Regions from separate parts of the Homo sapiens genome. Here all the other regions are linked to region 1. Evidence: fine-mapped expression QTL. A gene starts in region 1. Each other region holds a variant in brackets. All regions are shown on one strand. Distances are between the middles of the regions. Region 1 holds the start of PLBD1-AS1 (PLBD1 antisense RNA 1). Region 2 holds the start of PLBD1-AS2 (PLBD1 antisense RNA 2). Region 3 overlaps GUCY2C (guanylate cyclase 2C).

Evidence for each region.
Region 2: its variant is fine-mapped to the expression of PLBD1-AS1 in whole blood (INTERVAL, PIP 0.98).
Region 3: its variant is fine-mapped to the expression of PLBD1-AS1 in whole blood (TOPMed, PIP above 0.99). The same link has a PIP of 0.9 or more in prefrontal cortex.

The regions. Positions count from the first base shown.
Region 1 is chr12:14,564,457-14,570,107 of GRCh38, reverse strand. PLBD1-AS1 (PLBD1 antisense RNA 1) reads right to left here and starts at 2,376. Exons shown (of 6, transcript NR_120465.1): 1 at 2,302-2,376; 2 at 1,916-2,089. It overlaps PLBD1 (phospholipase B domain containing 1), which reads left to right and starts at 2,225. Exons shown (of 11, transcript NM_024829.6): 1 at 2,225-2,526. The coding sequence starts at 2,412. RefSeq lists silencers at 2,355-2,464, 3,204-3,380 and an enhancer at 2,278-2,959.
Region 2 is chr12:14,528,251-14,533,901 of GRCh38, reverse strand. All of the region lies in intron 6 of PLBD1 (phospholipase B domain containing 1), which reads left to right. It overlaps PLBD1-AS2 (PLBD1 antisense RNA 2), which reads right to left and starts at 3,763. Exons shown (of 5, transcript NR_187784.1): 1 at 3,661-3,763; 2 at 2,692-2,860. The variant A/G (reference allele first, on the strand shown) is at 2,582.
Region 3 is chr12:14,615,967-14,621,617 of GRCh38, reverse strand. It overlaps GUCY2C (guanylate cyclase 2C), which reads left to right. Exons shown (of 27, transcript NM_004963.4): 23 at 402-576; 24 at 2,309-2,407; 25 at 4,891-4,985. It overlaps PLBD1-AS1 (PLBD1 antisense RNA 1), which reads right to left. Exons shown (of 6, transcript NR_120465.1): 5 at 2,245-2,466; 6 at 1,863-1,880. Among named protein-coding and RNA genes, the nearest start is that of GUCY2C-AS1, 47 kb to the left of the region's middle. The variant G/A (reference allele first, on the strand shown) is at 3,441.

The DNA of each region.
Region 1 (5,651 bases):
TTGCCCCCCTACGGGAGCATTTGACAATGTCTGGAGACATTTTCAATGGGGGTGCCACTAGCATCCAGTAGGTAAAGGCCAAGGGGTGTCCAGGACAACCCCCCCACAACAAAGAGTTGTCTGCTCCAAAATTTCAATAGTGCTGATGTGGAGAAGTCCTGATCCAATTAATTTGTTTATATGTATAATTTGCTCCCCACTACTGGAATGCAAGCTCTGCAAGGGCAGGGACTTTGTTTTGTCTACTGCTCTGTGCTTGGAACATGGGAGTCAACGAATATTTGATGACAAATAATAGATGAATGAATGCCTCAAGGTTCACATTAGGCATTTATATGCATCTTACTTCATCAGAACACTTGGCTCCTTGGATCAGAAGGGTTAGTAAGGTGAAGGAGGGTGGTATAGGGCAATATGACTCAAATATTTGGGGTGGCACCACTTCCTTGAACATCCTAATGTGGTTCTCTTCCCATCATAACACAACCAAAATTTTCATTTTTGGTTCATTTTAATTTTCTAACTTGAAGGAAAATGTGCAACTTTTACAATGTCCTCGATGTCTTCATTTTAATTTTTCTTCATTTAAATTTTCTAACGAAGGAAAATGTGCAACTTTTACAATGTCCTCGATGTCTTCGTTTTAATTTTTCTTCATTTTAATTTTCTAACTTGAAGGAAAATGTGCAACTTTTACAATGTCCTCGATGTCTTCATTCATTAAATGCCATTAAACATAATTGTGACTTTAATTTTAATTAAATAAAAATGAGTTGGAGTCTCCCTGTGTGGCACAGGCTTGTCTTGAACTTTTGGGCTCCGGTGATCCTCCCACCTTGGCCTCCCAAAGTGTTGGGATTACAGGCATGAGCCATGGTGCCTGGACCACAAAATTGTGACTTGTGTTTCACAATTTGCACAGAGATTTGATGAACTTTTAGGTTCTTTATCTTTTCTAACAATTACATTTTCCCCGTTATGAAAGGTACTGCTTATTCTCTCTTCTCATCTCTCCTTGACACCTAGGTTAAGCTTAGAAGAAAGGCCAAGAGGAAGAGTGGGGTGCTGAGGTTCCCATCTGAGAGGTGGCTTGTTCCCTCCTTCCCCCTCTCCCACTGCACCTTAAACATAGCTCTAACACAGTAGAATGGCAAGTTCTGTGTACTTGTTTATCTATATGGCTTAGTTCTTTTTTAAAAAAATTATTATTGTTATTATTATTATTTTTTTTTGAGACGAATCTCGCTCTGTCGCCCAGGCTGGAGTAGAGTGGCGCGATCTCGGCTCACTGCAAGCTCCGCCTCCCGGGTTTACGCCATTCTCCTGCGTCAGCCTCCCAAGTAGCTGGACTACAGGCGCCCGCCACCGTGTCCGACTAATTTTTTGTATTTTTAGTAGAGACGGGGTTTCACCGTGTTAGCCAGGATGGCCTCGATATCCTGACCTCGTGATCTGCCCGCCTCGGCCTCCCAAAGTGCTGGGATTACAGGCGTGAGCCACGGCGCCCGGCTGGCTTAGTTCTTTTTGTCTGTGGTGAGGCATGCTCTTAGCTGTCTTTATATCACTGGTATCTGGAGTATAAGATGGGCCCAGCCAATGCTGAGTGAATGAATGAAATGCCTTTTGCCTACTTCACAATGTCACCTAGGGCACCCGGTGCCAACTTCACAATATCACCCAAGGCATAACTTTTGACTACTTCACAATGTCACTTTTAACTGACCCCACACAGAAATGGGGACTCCACAGAAACGTAGGAGTGTGTCTAGTGTCAGCCCCGTCTGAATCACTCTCCTGTGGTGGCTCCAGCCAACGAAGAGGAAGCAAAAAGGATAAAAAATCTGAGCTACAGCGCATGGATTTAGGTTAAACAGCCTGGGAATGAGGGGTACGCTAATCGCTGAGGAAAACGCACCTGTGGAGGCCTCTCCAGAAACAGCAGAGGATCCGAGCTGCGTGTAGGCAGGGCGCGCATGTCACCCTGGCCCGGGCGCCTGGTCCGCTGCTGGAGATAAATGGTCGACCCCGGAGGGAGAGGCTAGTAGGGGTGTTGATGTGAACTGATTCGCCCAAGCCTTGGGCCGCAAAACTGCGAAAGAAAGCGGCAGGCAGCCTCTGCATTTCCCAGAAGTGCAGCTGGGGAACTTTCCCAGACCGGCCCAGGGGTTGCTAGAGGGTCAGACGTAAAGGATCCGCCTTTCCTAGGCGGGGTGGGCCCCAGGCCACCACGTGAAGCGTCCTCGCCCCTCAGAGCCCGGAGCAGGCCGGGCTCAAGAAAGAGGAAAGTTGAGGACGCCCCACCTCGGAGAGGCGGCGCCCCTGAGTAGGCCAGGAGCCTCTCTTGCAACTTCTGCCACCGCGGGCCACCGCGGCCGCCTGATCCCGCAGAGGAAGGTCGCGGCCGTGGAGCGATGACCCGCGGCGGTCCGGGCGGGCGCCCGGGGCTGCCACAGCCGCCACCGCTTCTGCTGCTGCTGCTGCTGCTGCCGCTGTTGTTAGTCACCGCGGAGCCGCCGAAACCTGCAGGTGAGCAGAGCGCGCCCTGGGCGGGGGGCGCCCGGGGAGGCTCCTAGGAGCCTGTTAGCGCCCGTGCCCCGCGTCCGGCCGAGTTGACGTCCAGCGGGCGTCTGGTTCCTGGGTGAACTCAGAGAAACGCGCCTCCGGCCGGCGGTCTCGCTCCAGCCCTGCGGCTGCGCAGCGAGGGCACTTGAGAAGGGCATGGCGAGTGCGTCTGCCAACTTTACAAGTTTTGGCCCGAATTCTTGGCCAACAAATCGGTTCGCTCCTGCGCCGATTCTTGGCCCACAGAGCCTGGGCTGGTCTTAAAAACTCCAGCCAATGGGCATCTAAATATATTTATCCAGATTGTAGGGAGGTATGGTTCCGGCTTGCCATTTGTTTTGTGTTTTAAAAATTTACATTGACTTTGGCTTAAAATCACGATTGCACGATTGTCAGTTTGATACGTGCCTGGCAGTGGGCTTAAGGGCCTTTTGGTTTTGTTGTTGTTGTTGAGACAGAGTCGCTCTCTGTGGGCGACGCTGGAGTGCAATGGTGTGATCTCGGCTCACTGCAACTTCCGCCTCCCGGGTTCAAGCGATTCTCCTCCCTCAGCTTCCCAAGTAGCTGGGATTACAGGCGTCAGCCACCATGCCCAGCTAATTTGTGCATTATTAGTAGAGACGAGGTTTCACCATGTTGGACAGGCTGGTCTCGAACGCCTGACTCGGGCGATCCGCCTGCCTCGGCCTCCCAAAGTGCTGGGATTACAGGCATGAGCCACCGCGCCCGGCAGTTTTTTTTTTTTTTTTTTAATATATAATCCTAAATAGGATTATATTCCCCATTCTGCAGATGAGAAAAGTGAGATTGATCAGAAGTAATTCGCATAAAGATAACACAGCAAATAAGACAGAGTTAGGGGATGCCAGAGGGCATTTTCTTAACTACTTCCCTCTTGGAAAAACAGGTTTTATCTCTACAGGTATTCATGCAAATCTACATCCTTTGCCAAAATTAAATTAAATTAAATTAAAAAGCCTTGGATTTATGATTTCCGTTCCTAAGGAGGTGAAGATTATGAACTGTAACTAAGGGACTTGAAAGAATTCTAAAGTAATAATAAGAGAATTAATTTTGTCTTATTTCATAATCCCCTTTTCTGTGCTGACCTTGTACAAGAGTAGGGTGGGGCTTGGGGGAGGATGCCCCTTCCTAAATATGTGTACTGATTCTTATTACACTACCTTCCATCATCAAGAGCCTTCGTTTTTGAGACTTGCTTAGTTATCACTCTTCAATCTTAAATCTTTCCAGTCTGTGGGATCAGATGTACCCACAGGCTCCTGACTCGTGATTTTCTGTGTTCTTTGCCTAAACTATGGAGGTGGCCTTGGTGTCTACTTCTAGTCTAGGGAGACAGCTCATTCAGAGGTACCTGGGGGAGGCTGGGGAGGGTCCCAAAAGTGGAGGTAGCTTTTGTGTTTGGAATGCTGGCTAAAATCTTTATTCCTTTTCTGTTTTTTTGGACGAGTGAGATTAAGTGTTTTTGTAGGTGGAGGGGGCAGCCTGAGGAGTGAGACAGGCGTTGTTTTTCTGAAGATGGAGCACTATTTATTCAAGAAGGTACCACCTTGTAAGAAACTGCATCTTAAACAGTTCCTCCAACAGGAAGCTGACTCCATGCTTGGAGGTTCTGGAGCCAAGGCAGAAAGTAAGGACATTTCTGAGATGAAGTGATCCTGACAGCACCATGCCCAGCAATCTGGAAAGGATTCTTACTTACCTAGGTGTTAAGGACATCTGGTGATGCCACACTATTTCAGCAGATGAGATCTCTGTTTCCTTTGTCCTACCCACATTAATCTGTTTTCCCTTGAGGCTTTTTGGGTCTTTGTCTTTACCCTTCTACTAGCCTGCGAACAACCAAAGAGTAAAGAACTGGGACTTGCTACCTCTCACTTGTCATGTGTTCTCTGAAGTACCCAGCTCAGTACCCTGAACTTAGTAGGAATTCAGTAAACACTAAAGGGATTGCATGTCCATCCCCTTGGAATGGATTTTATATCCACTCATATGCATCTATCTATCCAAAAACAACTTCTTCAATTTTTAATTTTACTTTTTTTTTTTTTTACTATTATTTCCTATTATTTTTATTTTCCCCCCAGGCTGGGTACAGTGGCGTGATCTCGGCTCACTGCAACCTCCACCTCTTTGGTTCAAGCAATTCTCCTGACTCAGCCTCCCGAGTAGCTGGGATTACAGGCACACACCACCACGCCCAGCTAATTTTTATATTTTTTGTAGAGATGGGATTTCAACAGGTTGGACAGACTAGTCTCGAACTCCTGGCCTCAGGTGATCTGCCCGCCTCAGCCTCCCAAAGTGCAGGGATTACAGGTGTGAGCTACCATGCCCGGACACTTTTAGTTAATTCTTGCATATTCTTCAATTTGTAAAGGTTACTCTATAGTTTTATTATTCCAGAAGTTGACAAATAATTGCACAGTCATTCTAGCCAAATCTTTCAAGCTATGATTTCAGACATATGGTGTTGCGTTTATCTTTCCAGACCAAAAGCCCCATAATTGATTTTAGAAGGTCCTTATATAATTTTTTCTAAGTGGTATGTATAGAGAAGTCAGGTGGTCACTAGAGAAATAAATCATACCTTTATCTGGTTCTGAAAAAGTTTAACATCTTGGAAGTCATTCAGTCTCCATAAGGTGATTTGGCAGACCTATGATTGGAGTCAGTTTCAGTTGATCCTTTAACTCTGCAGACATTCTTTTAGGGTTGGCTGCTGAGAGACTCATAATATGGTATGTATATTGGTAAAACTGGTTCAGAATCTGGCCCTCGGCCTTGCAGGGCTAGACTCCAGAAATTCAGTCTTTCTACTGCTCCATATCTGATCACAGCTAAGAAAGCTGATTCACCCTGATATACACCCAAGTCTATTCATCAGACTTAGCATAATTTTTAGTTAGAAATATAACTGTCAGGCAGACTGGATATTTGTGAGGTCTGCTCTAGGCACTTTCTCACTGTAATCAAACCACATGGGGGTAGATAACATCACAGATTGTCAGGCTGGAGGCCTGATTTGTCTGTCTCCTGGTAGGCATCATACACTTGAGTCAGCCGAG
Region 2 (5,651 bases), 36 kb after region 1:
AAAGTGCTGGGATTAAGGTGTGAGCAATCATGTCCGGCCCCTATCAGGAATTCTGACCAAGGGCATAACCCAGTATTTCTCTGTCCTTGTGACCTGATCCTTTCTTTGAAACCAATTTGATTTCATCTTTGTCTTAGTTTGCTTAGTTGTTTTAGCATTGAGGGGGACTGGGGACTCCTCTCTCTGAGTTAGACTGTGCTTTGATTCTTTCACATTCTATTACACTGACATTTAAGGACAGCAAGAGACAGAGCAGTCCAGTATTCTTCCTCTTCCTCATCTTTGTGATAAAATGCAATATTCAGATGTTATGTGCACTGCTTTGAAATCTCTGTGGAATACAATGCTCTCCAGTAGTGTTAACAGTCCTGGATCCCAGAGGTAGTGATGGAGAAGGTCATGGAAGATTTTCTTATGAAACGTATAATCCTGTTAACATTTGCATATGTATCCTTCCAGATGAGATACACAAGTAGATTTCATAGATAATATGTAGAGCTTTTTGGAGCAATTGAATCTCCAAGAGAGCAACAGACAGTTTTATATATACCCCAAAACATTTTTACAGGAGCCAATGGAACAGTGGGATTCATATTTTCTCTAACTGGGCAGCTTTGTTCTCAGCACCAAACAGGAAAACATGTGCAGTCTCATTTATGTTACAACTTATTTTATTAAGGGACCAGCCACATTGGATTCATCCAGTAGACATGACATAGAACTATGCTTTACGATGAAGCTCATGCCATCTTAGCTGCTGAGTCCAGAACAAAGCTGGATGGCTTCCTTGTTTTTCTTTGATGGAGTTGTTTAACAGGCTTGGTCTTTTTTAGTCTTTTCTAAAATACAAAGTGGAGATTGAGGAAATTATTTCACCTAAAGAGGCTAACATGCAATACCCAGGGAAGGTCAAAAGTATACCAAAGTATACCAGGTGCTGATAACCTCAGTACCACCCTTAGGTCTGGGCACAGGAACCCCACCCTCCCAGCTTGGAATTACCTTCATGAAAATTACCTAAATCCCCCTCCAGCATCCTGAGACTGGCCAGGCTGGCAGTATCTTGACCTGTGTCTCTGTGCATCTAGTTTAGAAAGCTCCTTTCCAGAAAATTTCAAAATCCCCTTCTAGTGCCCAAGACTGACCAAGGTGGCAGAGCCATCCAGGTCAGCTTCTCTGAGTCCAGAAAGCAACGCATGTGGACTCCCTATCTGGGGGCTCTTCTCCTCCATTCCTGCCCACGCATGGGTTCAACAAGATGCCCTAAGGAGCTCTGGGACTCAAGCCTATGGCCTGGTCCTGGTAAGCAGATTCCTCTAGTTGGCCCTCACAGTATATATTTTTTGCAAGATGGTGCATAACTGAGCTGTCAGAACGGTGGTCACACGATGACCTGGGGTGACTCTCATGTCAGAGCATATGTTCAGGGCTCTATGCTACTGAAAACCACCTCTTACCCTCGGGTTTCAGCATGCAGCAGGGGAGGACGGTAAAGCGAACTTCGACCTATGAGCTCCACATCTGGCCCCTGTCGTGGCCTCCTCACCCCTGCAGCTCTGTACCATGTGTCGGTCAGTCCTTGGGGCGGGCTAGGCCTGGCCCCTCTGAGGCCTTTTGAGAACCTTGCTCCACAACACAAACGGGCCTTTGCAGCAAATCTTTTGCTGCAGTTGGTGATGTGACTTCCTACTGTCTTGGGTCAGTCTTAAGCCAGATGGATTTTTCTGGTGTGATTGGGACAGCTCTTCCAGCTCGACTTATAGGCTTCTCACCTATCCTACCCACTGGTGCCCGTGGGTGAGGAGTGAAGGTGGGGGAGGGTTCAGCATGAAAAGAGATTTGACTCATGAAGACTTGACTTAAATTGTGAAGCCTTAAATTATGAAAACTTTACTTAAATTTTCCTGGGGCTTTTAGCCTGTTCTTTTATCTTTTTATGTACCTACTTTCAAATACATGCACTTAACATTTAAACAGGCTAAGCAGGCTCATGCCTGTAATCCCAGCAATTTAGGAGGCCAGGGTGGGCGGATTATCTTGAGCTCAGGAGTTTGAGACCTGGGCAACATGGCAAGAGCCCGTCTCTGCAAAAATACAAAAAAATCAGCCGAGTGTTGGTAGCTCATGCCTGTAATCCCAGCTATTTGGGAGGCTGAGGCTGAAGAACAGCTTGAGCCCTGGAAGCAGAGGTTGCAGGGAGCCGAGATAGCACCACTGCACTTCAGCTTGGGGGACAGAGTGAGGCCTCGTCTCAAGAACAACAACAAAGAGATTACATTCTAGGGAGGCAGCAATTAGCCTGAAGAGTCCAACAGAAAACATGTCGATCTATGTTTACACTGTAAAATTCCCAGTGTAGCTTTAGTAACCATAAAACAAATTATCATTCACAATTTTTTTAACACTCTGGGTAAGGCTTGCATTTGTGGTCATCATTAACAAAGCATAATAAGGATTTTTGAGTCATTAGAAGCCAGGATTCACAGGTAGAGTGGTAGATGTCGCAAAGTCATTAAGAAAATGGTGTTAGGGAACTGCAGAGGCAAGGAGATCTGTGTTGTTTCAAAACAAACAGGTTCCA[A/G]AAAGTCATGGTTTTGTAATAACAGTATTGCTACCTTTTTCTCATAACAAAAAATAGGAAATTAGCCAAGAACAATGCATTTAATAATAAAGAATACAAAGAGATGGTACCTGGATACTGTAACAAATCTTCACGTGCACTGATTGGACAATAGACAAAACAGATTGCCTTTCTCTGCCCATCATCCTAAATCTTCAATGATAAATCATCATATCTCACATGTACTGATGAATTTTTAAATATATGTTTTTAATCAAATTGTTTATATAGGCAGGGGCCCTGTTAAAAAAGACAAACAAACAACAACAAAACAACAACAACAACAAAAAACACTTGCCTGAGGCACTGGATACCCAAAGGAAAGTGGCTTTGAATGGCCTTGTTCTAGGAGTTTCTGTCCCTAACAAGAAGGGTTTTGAATACATGGTCTGTTTGCCTAGTAACAGCTAAGGCTGAGTAAGGAATGGAGAAGCCTTGCACTAGCCCTCCCCACACATTTACTTATTTTGGCAATGCAAATTAATAATCAAGGAGGTAAGACAAAGAGATAAATCACTAGAAAATGACGGCACTGAAATGGCAGCCAATACAATTGTGTGAAGACCTCAGCACAAAGATCTGATAGTTTTAACCAATCCAGAGAAAATTTACTTGTCAACAACATTGAGTCTTCCAATCTACTAATATAATCTATTTGTTTATTTCAGTCTTTAATTTGAGTCATATCATGTAGTTTTCAGTATTTAGGTCTTACATACCTTTAAGTAAGTTAAATCCTAAGTAATGTTTGATGCTACTGTAATCAAAATGTTTTTTATTCTTTTTTCAGTTGTTTGTTGCTCATATGTATTTATTGGTTACCCATTGCCACATAACAAATTGCTCCAAACATTAGTGGCTAAAAACAATAATGATTTAGTTACTCATGGTTTCTGTGGATCAGGAATTTAGATAGGGCACAGTGGGGATAATTTGTCTCTACTGTGACTGGGGCCTCAGCTGGAAGACTCAATGACTGAGGGGCTAAAATCTCTGATAGCTTAACTGAGACTGGAACATGCACTTCCAAAACGACTTACTAACATAGCTGACAGGGTGGTGCTGGCAACTGGTTCCTCTTCACTTGGGCCTCTCCTCAGAACTGCTTGAATGTCCTTCATGGCAAGACCCCTGGCTCCAGACGAAGCCATCCAAAAGAACAAGGCAGAAATAGTAATGCCTATTGTGACCTCACCTCAGACGTCACACACGCTCACTTCCACCAGGTTCTATTAATTAGAAGCAAGGTGTTATGACCAGCCCACATTCAAGGAAAGGCGATTAGAATCCACCTTTTAAAGAGAAGGGTGCCAAAGAATTTGTGGAAATTTGAAAACTACCACAATGTATTACGATTTTTTTGTACATTATTATCCTGAGATCTTTCTAATAGCTTTTTTGTAGATTCCTTGGGATTTTCTATATATACAATCATGACATCTCTAAATAAAGACAGTTTGACTTCTTCCATCCCTTGTATGTCTTTGATTGTTTTTTTGTATGATTGTGCTGGAGAAGACCTCCAGAATAATGGAGACCATAAGTGGTGAGCATGCAAATCCTTGCCCAATTCCTGACCTAGGGTGAAAAGTATTGTCTTTCACCATTAAGTATGATGTTAACTGCAGATTTTTTGTAGATGCCCTTTATAATGTTAAGGAAGGTCCCTGCTCTTCCTACTTTCTTTAATATTTTTATCAATAAATGAGTGTTGCATTTTTCTGAATTCTTTCTCAGCAATTGTTGAAAAGATCATATGAATTTTTTCCTTTATTAATATGATAAGTTACATTGATTGATTTTCAGATGTTAAACCACTTGAAATTCCTGGGTTAATCCTCAGTCATGATGTGTTATTCTCTGTATTTATTTTTAGTTCAGTTTACTAACGTGTTAATGATTTTTTTCATTTACATTCATGAGACATATTTGTTTGTAGTCTGCTTTTCTTATGATGGTTTTTGTTTTAGGATAAGCTTATCCTCATATCCTAAATGTGGAATTATTTCTTTCTCCTAAGTGTTTTAAGAGCATGTATATGATTAGTGTTATTTTATTCTATTTATTTATTTATTTATTTATTTTTAAAGACAGGGTCTCACTCTGTCCCCCAGGCTGGAGTACAGTGGTGTGAACATAGCTCACTGCAGCCTCAAACACCTAGGCTCAAGTGATCCTCCTGCCTTGGTTTCCCAAAATGCTGAGATTACAGGTGTGAGCCACTGTGCCCAGCCCATTTTCTTCTTTAAGTGTTTAATAGAATTCACGCGTGAAGCTAGATATGAAGGTTTTTATTTGTTGAAAAGTTATTAATTGTAAATTTAATTTCTTTCACTGCTACAGAACTATTTCAGTTTTCTAACTCTTCTTGAGTTAGTTTTAAAAATGTATCTTTCAAGGAATTTATCCCTTCTTTCTAAGTTATTGTTTTTATTGATATGAAGCTATTTATAATGTTTTTCTTAACCTCTTAATGTCTGTAGGATCTGTAAAGTCCCCATTATCATTCATGATATTGTCCATTTTTCTTCTTTATTAAGATAAAATTTCCATTTTTATATTTATTTTCTTTCTTCTACTTACTTTGCATTTAATTTGTAATTTTTTCTAGCTTCTTAATGTAGAAGACTAGATAACTGATTTTGATCTTTCTATCATAAGCAAATAAAATGATAAATTTTCCAATAAGCACTACTTTTGGTGCATCTGACAAATTTTGGTATATTTTGTGTTCATTTTTATTCCATTTAGAATATTTTCTAATTTATCACGATTTATTTAATCCATAGCTTATTTGGAAGTGTATTGTTTAATTTCCAAAAATTTACAGATTTTTCAGATCTTTGTCACTGTTTTCCAATTTAATTGCATTTTCTAATTTATTCTGAGATCAGAGAGCATATTCTGTATGATTTCAAATTTTTTTAACTTTATTGAGACCTGTGTTATGGCTCAGCATGAGTCTATCTCAATGAATGTTTCATATGCAGTAGAAAATAATGTAAATTCTAGTACTTCTGAGTGTAGTGTT
Region 3 (5,651 bases), 52 kb before region 1:
TATTACAAAGTACAATATTCTGTTAAATAGTATGTTGACATTTGCTAAAGGATTAATTTTCAGGAAACTAAGGGTGTTCCTCAAATTACATAAAACCATTCAGATTATTTATTTGAACATTTCTAGAACTGTCACCACATCTGGACAATTTATATAATTATGAAGTACTTTTAAATGGCTAAATTCCTTTATAGCTATTTTATCACCCATTAACTGGACTATAAAAACCCTGAAGAAATCAGCATAGAACTGATCCAACTGGCCCCAGAAAAAGTGTAAAGGGCTATGCTCATACTGTGTTCCCAAATCACTTTTTGTGTTTGACATGTGATTAACTGCTTCTGTTTACTTTCTATACTTTTCAAAGGGGCAGAGGCACTCATGAGAAACTGTTTCCACAGGTGGAAACCATCGGTGATGCGTACATGGTGGCTAGTGGTTTGCCTAAGAGAAATGGCAATCGGCATGCAATAGACATTGCCAAGATGGCCTTGGAAATCCTCAGCTTCATGGGGACCTTTGAGCTGGAGCATCTTCCTGGCCTCCCAATATGGATTCGCATTGGAGTTCACTCTGGTATGGAGTTGAGCATCTTAGCAAATTGGGAACCATATGTACTGCTGTGCACCAACTAAATCAGAAAGGATAAAAGGTCTTCAAGTGTGATCGACCTCACATAATTTTTACTCTTAATTCTTTTTGCCAAATGTGAGGTCCCACTATGCATCCTGAGATATTTAGACCCAGTTCCTAGAGAACTCTAAGAACAAGACCTTTGAGGGCACCACTGACTGCTGACATGATAAACACCAAACATGTACGAAAACAAGAAGCTTTGGACTCCTATTTAAATCACCATACCTATGATTTCATTTATTTCCTCCCCATTCCCTTTCTCCCCACCCCCAACTTCAATATATTTTCCCACTAAAATATTATAGTATCTTAAGTGGATTAGATTATCTACAAGGGGAAATAAAGAACAGATGGTGAAATTTCTATAATATTTATACCCCCTCCCTTCCCTGCCACTGCAGTTATACAGAAAGTACATGAGTCACTTTCAAAGACCATGAAAGTTACATAGCCTTGTTAAAAGAAAAGCTTATGCATATTAAATTTAACACAGTTTGATTGAGCAAAGAATAATTTTCAAATCAGATGGCCCTTAAAACCAGAAGAGGTTCAGAGAGCTTCAATGGGCAAGGTGGGCGGGCAATGTTTATAGACAGAAAACAGAAGTGAGGGACAGAAACAACTTGATTGGTCAAACCTCTGTGTTCCCCTGATTTGGTCAAAGTCCCATCAGTTGACAGCCTGTGACTGGCTGAAGCTCAGCTACTGCGATTGGCTGAGACTCAGCTATCTATAACGTAAGTATACCCTAGTTAGGCTTTTAGTTTGTTTATGTACCAAGCTAGGTTGCAGTTTGTTTTGTAGGGACCCCTAAGAGGCAGCCTCAGGCCAAACTTAGTTTAATTCAACAGCCTTGAACATCAAGGTTTGAGATGAGTTACAGGTGTTATAGAAAAAACACCTGTAAGAGAGGAACTCAGAAGTCATCTAGATGAATCTTTAGCCAGGCATTGCTTAAAACTCAGCTTTGCAGTTTTTGAGTTAATCTTTAACTTCTGAAACTGTTAACACCTTGCACTCAGTCATTCTATGCAAATACATGACTGAATAACCCTTATTTCCTACCTAATATGCCACAGCGCATAGTCTAGCCTGGGCTTTTGTTCTGCTTGTTGGAACCTCCTTGTGCCACAGGCTTCCCCATCCAGCTGCATTCGCCTGGTCCATGAAATGCTTACGGAAAGTTATGCCTTTGTCTTGTCTTCTGTCTTCCATTGTCATGGCACCAATCCCAGAAATGCCACCTTAAAATAAAAATAAAACAAACTTGAGCCATTGAAGCTTCAAATCTACAGTGCCCTCCAGCAGTGTGAAATTCAGGGTTGTGTGGTTTGGCACAGTAAGCAAGCAGTGGGGCTCATCTTCATCCTTCCTGAGAGCCTTCTATTTAAAATCACCTTTGTGATCTGGATCTCTGAATGCCTTCCTATTTGCTACAAATGTCGTTTTCTTTGCGAGAGCAAAATACTTTATGATCGCATGCATTGAATAATGATGCTTCATTGGATTCATCCATTTAAACCAAAAGTCCCAGCTCACATTTCACATCCTCAGCTACTTCTCCATGACAGGAAGTATTCAGGATTGTGACCATACAGAGAGGCTTACCTGTCTTCACTCTACTCTGCAATTTCTATTGCCTCCACTTCCTGCTTTCTGTCCTTCATTTCAGGTCCCTGTGCTGCTGGAGTTGTGGGAATCAAGATGCCTCGTTATTGTCTATTTGGAGATACGGTCAACACAGCCTCTAGGATGGAATCCACTGGCCTCCGTAAGAAGGGAGACTGTTTTTCTCAGAGGACAAAGATGCTGTTTTCCAGCAGAGGGCAACTGTGAGATAAAATGCACAATAAGGAGATACAAAGTGCCAGTGAGATGTAGAATAATTCTTCACATTAGCTGAACACAAACCCGTGTCAATCCACCTTTTGCTACATTTGCTTTCATTGTTGTTTACTGATAATTATTTTATTCTTCCACTTTTGCTCAGTTTTAGACTATTTCTATATTTTTGGCTCATATACAATGAATCTGGGGATATTCTACTTAGAATAGTCCTGGCATTTACCATAGATTCATGAAAGTTAAAAAAAAATCAGTAGGCAAGGTAAGAACTACACACTCTGGTTCACATTCCTGTTTCCCTCTTATTTGGTTTTGCTTTTTTGTTGTTGTTTTTTAGAGACAGGCTCTCGTTCTGTCACCCAGGCTGGAGTGCAGTGACACGATCATAGCTCCCTGTAAACTTGAACTCCTGGGCTCAAGTGATCCTCCCACCTCATCCTCCCAAGTACCTGGGACTACAGGAACATACCAGCACATCCAGATAATTTTTAAATTTTTAATAGAGACTGGGTCTCACTATGTTGCCCAGGCTGGTCTCAAACTCCTGACCTCAAGGAGTCCTTCCACCTTGGCCTCCCAAAGCATATTCGTTTTTTCTGGAAATTGATTTTTGTTTATTTGTTTGAGATGGGGTCTCACTCTGTCGCCTAGGCTTTGGCACAGTGGCACAATCACAGCTCACTGCATCCTTGAACTCCTCAGCTCTAGTGATCCTCCCACCTCAGCCTCCTAAGTAGCTGGGACTACAGGCATGCCACCATGCACAGCTAATTTTTTAATTTTTTCTGTAGAGGTGTGGTCTCTCTATGTTGTCTAGGCTGGTCACAGATTCCTGGGCTCAAGCAAGTCTCCTGCCTTGGTCCCCCAAAGCCCCAAAGTGTTGGAATTACAGGCAAGAGCCATCATACCCAACCAAGAATTGATTTTAGTAAAGAAAAATCTAAGCATTTGTTATATAC[G/A]AAGGAATATATTGCATTTGCTTGGCAAGGTAGAGGCACAATGTGCTGCATGAAGTAGATGCTCAATAAATATTGATGACAGTGGTAGCAGTAGAAATATATAGAAGAGAGAAAATAAGCACTGGGAGACATGGCTGGGGCTTACGAAACCACAGGAGGCAGGATGGTATTTTGGTAGTGTACTGACAATGTGATACTAGTTTGTCCTGGCAAATCATGCTGGCAAGGAAAAGGATAAGGTTGGGGTCAGACAGACTTGGGTTACAATTGAAATTATGTTAATCATTCTCAGTATAAGTTGAGTAGAAAGCTACCTGATCCTTCTAGCCCTCAGAAAGATAAAGATACAAATTGAAAATGGAATACCAACCGTGCCAAGAGGGTTTCTGAAATAATTTGGGATGATGTCATGTTAAGCGTTTAGCAATCATGGTACATGGTAGGTATACAATTTGGGATTGTCATTATTCTTACTGTGTAATTGTTTGTGGTATTGCTATTAGGCCCCTATATTGGGAAAGGTGATACACATCAATGGACTTGTGAATGGGCGTGCCCTCACCACTTCTTTTGTCAAAGGATAACAATGTTCCAGAAGAAGGAAATTTGAGAAAATCAAGACCCCTCAACTCTCCCGAATCTTCACCTTGCCCACAAGGCTTTAGCTATTTATTGGAACTTTTCCACAGGGACCCAAAACCAAACTCCAACACCCAAGCTTGGCACTACAAGCCAAATCTAAAACTAGGTCCCGCAGGCTACTACTCTGAGCTGGAATGAGAATCTATGGAGAAAAACCTAGGGATCCCCATCACATCACGCAGGGCCCTGAAAACTGATGCCAGGCCTTCTTTCTTCCCACGTGAGATTATATTTCTTGTGTGAGGGCATTCTTGCATTGCTATAAAGAAAAACCTGAGACTGGGTTATTTATAAGAAAAGAGGTTTAATTGGCTCATGGTTCTGCAGGCTGTAAGGGAAGAATAGCACCTGCATCTGCTTCTGGGGAGGCCTCAGGAAGCTTTCACTCATGGCAGAAGACAAAGCAGGAGCAGGCACTTCATACAGCAAAAGCAGGAGTAAGAAAGAGAGTGGCAGGGGCAGGTGCCACACCTTTTTAAATGACCAGATCTTGTGACAACTCAGTATCGCAAAGACAGCACCAAGCCATGAGGGATCCACCCCTGTGACCCAGACACCTGGTCGGGGGCCAGGACTCCAGCACTGGGGATTAAAATTCAACATGAGATTTGGGTGGGGACAAATATCCAAACTATACCATTTCTTATCTCTCTGATGTTATTTTTAAGTGTTCTTTCATTAAAATAGCCACAATTGTTTCTTCTTGATTTAGGATTCTTGTCTCAGGTGTTGTTGATATCCTGAATCAACGGGAAACAAATAGGCTGTGTACTAGCTGGGATTTTTATTTGTCAATTTGCATTTCCAGCTTTGAGAATTCACGTGAGTGGCTCCACCATAGCCATCCTGAAGAGAACTGAGTGCCAGTTCCTTTATGAAGTGAGAGGAGAAACATACTTAAAGGTAAGGAGTCCACAGAGACAATGCATAGGAAAAGCTCTCAGACACGCTTGGGCCACCTCCTTTGAGACTTGGCCAGGAAAGTTGAGCATGCTAATCCTCTTCTGTACTCATCACGATGAGCACCCTCCATCCTCTGCAAGAGAAATGACCACCAAAAAATGTGAACTCAAAACTTGCCTTTACTCCAAAGAGCCCTTTTGAGATTTTGAACTCTGCCAGCATTTCCTCTGCCATATCCAGGTTTTGTATCCAGTTCCTCCTCCAAACACAAGAGCTACATACAGTCTGGTCCAGGACTTATTTAATTTGAATCAAAACCCTTGTCCCCCCACTTACTTCCCTACTCTTACTACACACTGCTGCTATGATCTGAGGTCACCTCTCTTGCCAGTTGCTTTACTATTCGGAAGCTCTAGAATCACAAGGAGTGAATGACAAGGTGTGGCCCCATTCTCCTCCTCTTCCTCATCTGGAAGCTTGTTAAAATGCAGATGTGTGGACACTCTACCAGGCCTACTATGCAAGATTCTCTGTGGGCGTAGATCAGAAATCTATATTTTTAACAAGATAATGTGTTTGTGACCACACTAATATTTGAGAATCGCTATTCCAGATTCTTCATGCAGTTCCTCACATTTAAAACAGCTGCCCTCCATAGCCATCAGT